2 separate regions of the Homo sapiens genome follow, and region 2 is linked to region 1. Evidence: fine-mapped expression QTL. A gene starts in region 1. The other region holds a variant in brackets. All regions are shown on one strand. Distances are between the middles of the regions.

Evidence for each region.
Region 2: its variant is fine-mapped to the expression of HPX in whole blood (TOPMed, PIP 0.97).

The regions. Positions count from the first base shown.
Region 1 is chr11:6,439,833-6,442,741 of GRCh38, reverse strand. It overlaps HPX (hemopexin), which reads left to right and starts at 1,755. Exons shown (of 10, transcript NM_000613.3): 1 at 1,755-1,861; 2 at 2,012-2,070; 3 at 2,204-2,275; 4 at 2,456-2,577. The coding sequence starts at 1,779.
Region 2 is chr11:6,463,205-6,466,113 of GRCh38, reverse strand. TRIM3 (tripartite motif containing 3) reads left to right here. Exons shown (of 12, transcript NM_033278.4): 2 at 382-549. The coding sequence starts at 419. Among named protein-coding and RNA genes, the nearest start is that of TRIM3, 9.3 kb to the left of the region's middle. The variant T/C (reference allele first, on the strand shown) is at 1,675.

The DNA.
Region 1 (2,909 bases):
GAGAAGGTGAGTATGAGACATTGGCTGTAGCAGCGATGGCATTGCCCAGGCTGCCAAGGACTCAGAGAGTCCAGCCTTGCCCACTGACCTATGAGGAGGGAATGATGTTCACAGCACATTTTCATTCGTAAGTCAGGAGAGGACATTGAGCCTGATGGCAGAGGCCTGGTGACATGTTGTTCCAGAGGTTCCGGAATGTGTGTTTTCCTGTTGGAAGGAAACTTCGCAGAGTAGAAAAGGGATCTGAGACTTTTGGTAAGATTATATATGGGACTGTCAGGGGTCTGGAGCCATCTGTGAGGGATCAGGGCCCTTTCAGCCTTGGCTAGGGAGCAGGGGTCCTGGAACTTCATCCTGGCCCATAGCTGAGTCTGCCCATAATTCTTTTCTGACTCACTAGGCAAATCTCACACAGAAATGGGGCAGCTTTGGGAGTGGGCCCAGGAAGTACTGAGGATAGCAGGTGAGATCCCAGGAAGAGATGGATGTGGGGCCGAGACACTGGAGAGAGAAACAGGACTGTCAGATAAAGGGCGTCTGTGACTCCTAGATCTCATTATGCCTACTACCATAACCTACCCCCAATTCCTAATATTCTCCTACCCTAGAGGGGGGGAAATTGTCAGAAATTTGGCTGCAACACTAGCAACACTACTCAGTACTTGAAATGCATTTTTGCATTTTTTTCATTCAACAAATATTTCTGGAACAACTCTTATATGCCAGGCACTATTTTAGGAGTCAGGGATATATAATGGTAAACAAGACAGGCAAAACAAAGCAAAGCAACAACAACCATCACCAGATAAGTAGACAGATGAAAGAATTTCAAGTTTTAGTAAGTAAAATAAAACAAGCAAGGGTCTGAAATGGCTAGATAAGGTGGTCAAGAAAGGCTTCATTGAGAAGGTAGCATTTAAGCAGGAGTCAGCTAGAAATATTGTGAAATTCCAGTTACAGTTCTATTTGTTCTGGGTTGGTTAAATAAAGCTTTTTCCCCCAAGGTGGAAACTACCAAGAAAGACTAATTACTAGTAGTGGTGGTGCTCTCTGGAAGAGAGACACCTCCTGTTTCTGCCTCATTACTGTCAACCCTTCACTTCCAGGCACTTTTTGCAAAGCCCTTTGCCAGTCAGGGAAGGCGAGAGGCTGGGCATGGGGCTTGGACATTTGACAACAGTGAGACATTATTGTCCCCAGACTCACTAGCCCAAGGGTAAAGCTGAAGAGGCTTGGGCATGCCCCAGAAAGGCCCCTGATGAAGCTTGGAAAAAGCTGTTCTCTGAGTATTTCTAAGTAAGTTTATCTGTGTGTGTGGTTACTAAAAGTAGTAAGTATTGCTGTCTCTAGCTGCCTTAGAGCAGGGCTTGACACAGTACACAGCAATATTAGTTCCCTCCTTTTCTCACCTCCCCCATTGTGGAGATAAACTCAATCACAAAAGGTGATCCTCAGTCTACTCACTTCCCTGACTTATGGATGCCTGGACCCATTGCCAGTGTGAGAGTCACAGCTGGACGTCAGCAGTGTAGCCCAGTTACTGCTTGAAAATTGCTGAAGGGGGTTGGGGGGCAGCTGCCGGGAAAAAGGAGTCTTGGATTCAGATTTCTGTCCAGACCCTGACCTTATTTGCAGTGATGTAATCAGCCAATATTGGCTTAGTCCTGGGAGACAGCACATTCCCAGTAGAGTTGGAGGTGGGGGTGGTGCTGCTGCCAACTCTATATAGGGAGTTCAACTGGTCACCCAGAGCTGTCCTGTGGCCTCTGCAGCTCAGCATGGCTAGGGTACTGGGAGCACCCGTTGCACTGGGGTTGTGGAGCCTATGCTGGTCTCTGGCCATTGCCACCCCTCTTCCTCCGTGAGTAAAGCTGGGACTAGAAGCGAAGGATTGAGTTCTGGGCTAGGGTAAGGTAGGGCCAGTTTTTAGGCCTCGGTCAAATTTGGGGTCAGGGGCTATGGGAAAGGGATCGGTCCCAATGGATCAAGATATCTATTTTGTTCTCCCTAGGACTAGTGCCCATGGGAATGTTGCTGAAGGCGAGACCAAGCCAGACCCAGACGTGACTGGTGAGGCCCTGACTCCCTAAGTCTGTCTTATCTGTCTGGTTGTGTCTCTGCATTTTATCACCTTCTGGTTTTTTTTTTTTTTTTTTTTTTTTTTTTTTTTTTTTACTTTGCCATCTCCCTACCTCCACCCCAGAACGCTGCTCAGATGGCTGGAGCTTTGATGCTACCACCCTGGATGACAATGGAACCATGCTGTTTTTTAAAGGTAGGAGGGACTGAGGTTAGGGCGTTTAGGACCTTAGACTTACTCTCCTTCACAAAGGGTGTCCCTGTCTGTGGGAGGTCTTAGGAATTATCTGATGGTATCACTGACAGCTTCTCTCAAGCTATCTCAGTAGGTCAAAGGTTTCTCACTGGGCCCCTCAGTGAGTGTGGGTTTTTTCAGGGGAGTTTGTGTGGAAGAGTCACAAATGGGACCGGGAGTTAATCTCAGAGAGATGGAAGAATTTCCCCAGCCCTGTGGATGCTGCATTCCGTCAAGGTCACAACAGTGTCTTTCTGATCAAGGTACTGCTGGGCCAAAATCAGGGCCAGGCTGGAAAGGGCTGGAATCGACACTGGGGACCCTTCCCCCAAATGGCCTTGGCATGGAGCCCATAGCAATAGGTAGCAGATTTCTTTCCCATGTGCCCTCCTTTCCTGTAAAAGCTTGGGCTAAGGGAGTGTGCATGCGTGTGGGCCTGGCAGGTGCACCATCCAGTGGCTGTTCTTCAGTCCTAGTCTTAGTTCTACACCGCTCTGCTGTACCTCACACTGCTGGCCATCCTTTTTTTCTCTGGCAATTGCTTCCCTTGCCTTCCATGACCCTGTATCAAGTCCTCTTCATAGGGCAAGGCAAG
Region 2 (2,909 bases), 23 kb before region 1:
AGATGAAGGGTAGGTATGTCAGTGAAAATGGACATCTCTGTACCATGCACTCAACAGGCACTATGTCACACTCTCAAATTATTATTCCTGTAATTACAAATTAAGAGACTGAGGCTCAGAGAAGTTACATGGATTGTCCAAGCTCACATAGCTGGTGAGAGACTGAGCCAGGTTTGAAACCCAATCTAATCCTACGTCTGTGCTCTTAAACAGAACACCAGGCTCAGAGGTCACATCACCCTGATCCTTCCAGTCACTGCCCTGTCTTGCCCCTAGCAGGGAAGAGGTGGGGGCAAGTTCTCTGCAGGGGATTTGAGTGGCGGGGATTGGGTGGGGAGAAGAAGTTCTGGACTCCCTGGTGCTGACCATCTCTCCATACAGAGGCTGGTGTGAGTGGCGGGAGCCATCTGTGGGCGCCATGGCAAAGAGGGAGGACAGCCCTGGCCCAGAGGTCCAGCCAATGGACAAGCAGTTCCTGGTATGCAGCATCTGCCTGGATCGGTACCAGTGCCCCAAGGTTCTTCCTTGCCTGCACACCTTCTGTGAGAGGTGAGGGGATGTGTGTACTGGGGAGGGATGAGGACCCTGTGGGGAGGATGAGGATCCTCCTCCCCTGTGGGGAGGGTGAGGGAGCATGTGTAAACCTGTAGTAGGTGAGGCAACATGCTTACCTGGGAGGAGAGCAGGTGAACCCCAACCTGCAGGAAATGAGGTTTTGAGGGCAAGAACCTGTGAGAGAACCATAAGAACCATAACACTGGGCCATGGTTCCTGTCAAGAATAGGGCCTTCTCTGTCCTTTCCCAAACCTCAAGGCAGCTTTTGACACCACCTAAGAAATCAAACAGTGCTCAGACTCAACCAGCTTTGGCATCAGCAATTTATGACTAGTTGGAGGATATTTGAAGTTAGGTCTGTCCTTCCCTGCTTGTCCTTGTTGTCCTCAGGTACTGAGTGAAAGGCAACCTGTCCCAGCCTCTAGGCTTCTATGGATCACTTATTCATTTAACAAATATTCATTTATTGAGCAACTACTATGTGCCAGACCCTGTTCTAGGCATTGGGTATGCAGTGATGAGCAAAAACAGATAAGATCCTTACTCTTTTTTTTTTTTTTTTTTTTTTTTTGAGATGGAGTCTCGCTCTGTTGCCCAAGGTGGAGTGTAGTGGCACGATCTCGGCTCACTGCAACCTCTGCCTCCCAGGTTCAACCAATTCTCCTGCCTCAGCCTCCGGAGTAGCTGGGACTACAGGCGCACGCCGCCACGCCCAGCTAACTTTTTGTATTTTATTACAGATGGGGTTTCACCGTGTTGCTCAGGCTGTTCTTGAACTCCTGAACTCAGGCAATCCGCCTACCTCGGCCTCCCAAAGTGCTGGGATTACAGGCGTGAGCTACCGTGCTTACTCTTTTTAAAAACTGATACACAATAGTTTACATATTTATGGGGAACATGTGATACATTGTTACACAAGCATAGAATGGGTAACAATCAAGTAGGGTATTTAAGGTATCCATCACTTACAATGCTTACTCTTAAAGAGCTAACAGTATAGTGAAAGAGAAAGATAGTCATCAAATAATCATATAGCCAGATTATAGATAAATATAACTTTTAGTAAGTGCTGCAAATAAAGTGCTGAGCTATGAGAGATTGGCATATGGAATCTGTTA[T/C]AGTTTGGAGAATCAGGGAAGGTTTCCCTGAGGAGCAATTCAGAGGATGAATAGGAGTTAACTAGGTAAAGGGGGTTGGAAGAGCATTCTGCACAGAAGAAAGACCATTGGAAAAGCTCATGTGACATGAGAAAATATGTCAGGTAAGAGGCCTGGAGGAAGCCTGGTAGGGCTAGAGCAGAGTGAGTGTGACTGAGAGTATTATGGGATGAAGCTGGAGAGGTAGGTGGAGGCCAGACCACCTAGGGCTTTGTAGACCTGTTAGGGAATTTCACCTTTACCCTGAGAGCCACATGAAGCCTTTGCAGGGTTTTATATGTGATCACATCTGTATTTTGACAATATTCTCTTGGGCCCTTATCTCTCATTGTTCTGTCTTGGGTGGCCTGGTCCCTAGGTCTTCTCACCACCACTGCCTCTATCCGCACTTTTCCTCTGCCTTCTGCCCCAACGGAAACCTGGCTCTGCACCAGAGATACTGCTTCCCTGCCAGCCCTGCTCTTTGAGATTCCAGCTCCACTGCCCACTCTCCTTTATCAACTGGAAATGGCCTCAGTTTTCCTGTCCATTCAAGTTCTTCTGTCAGCCTGGGGACAACCACCCTCTTGTGCCTGTTGGTTCTTAACTGTTTCTTCAGGGTTGTCCCCCATTCCACCTCAGTAACACTCCCTCCCAACCATGCCCTGAATCTTATAATCCAGAATCTTATCTGTAGTCATAAACGCCAACGTTCCACTCCTGGCTCCCGTTACCCCACTCCCATTACACCACTTTCGATACAATATAGATATCTAGCCCCTTTGACTGCTCCCTCTTTTCCCAGTCACCAGCTGCGTCCTGGCCTCCCTGTCTTTCCTGCCCATCCTGGACCCTGTGGCTGACCGACTGGCTCCCCTGCAGTTCCTTCACATCTTTATCCTTTGCAAAACCCATGCAATAGAAGCTCAATGTTGGATCAGAGCTGAAATTGGATGTCTCTGCACTTTCTCCTGTGCCCAGATCACTGAGCACTCCTGGAGAAAATCTGGCTGAGAAATTGTAATAACAGTAGCTACCATGTATTGATTGCTTACTGTTTGCCAGGGACTGGCTAAGTGATTTATACATACTGATTTCCTTAATCCCTGCAACAGATACTTTATTAACTTCATTTTATTTTTTTATTTTAATTTTTTAATGTAACTTTTCATTTTAATTTTTTTTGGTTTGTTTTTTGTTTTTGTTTTTGTTTTTTT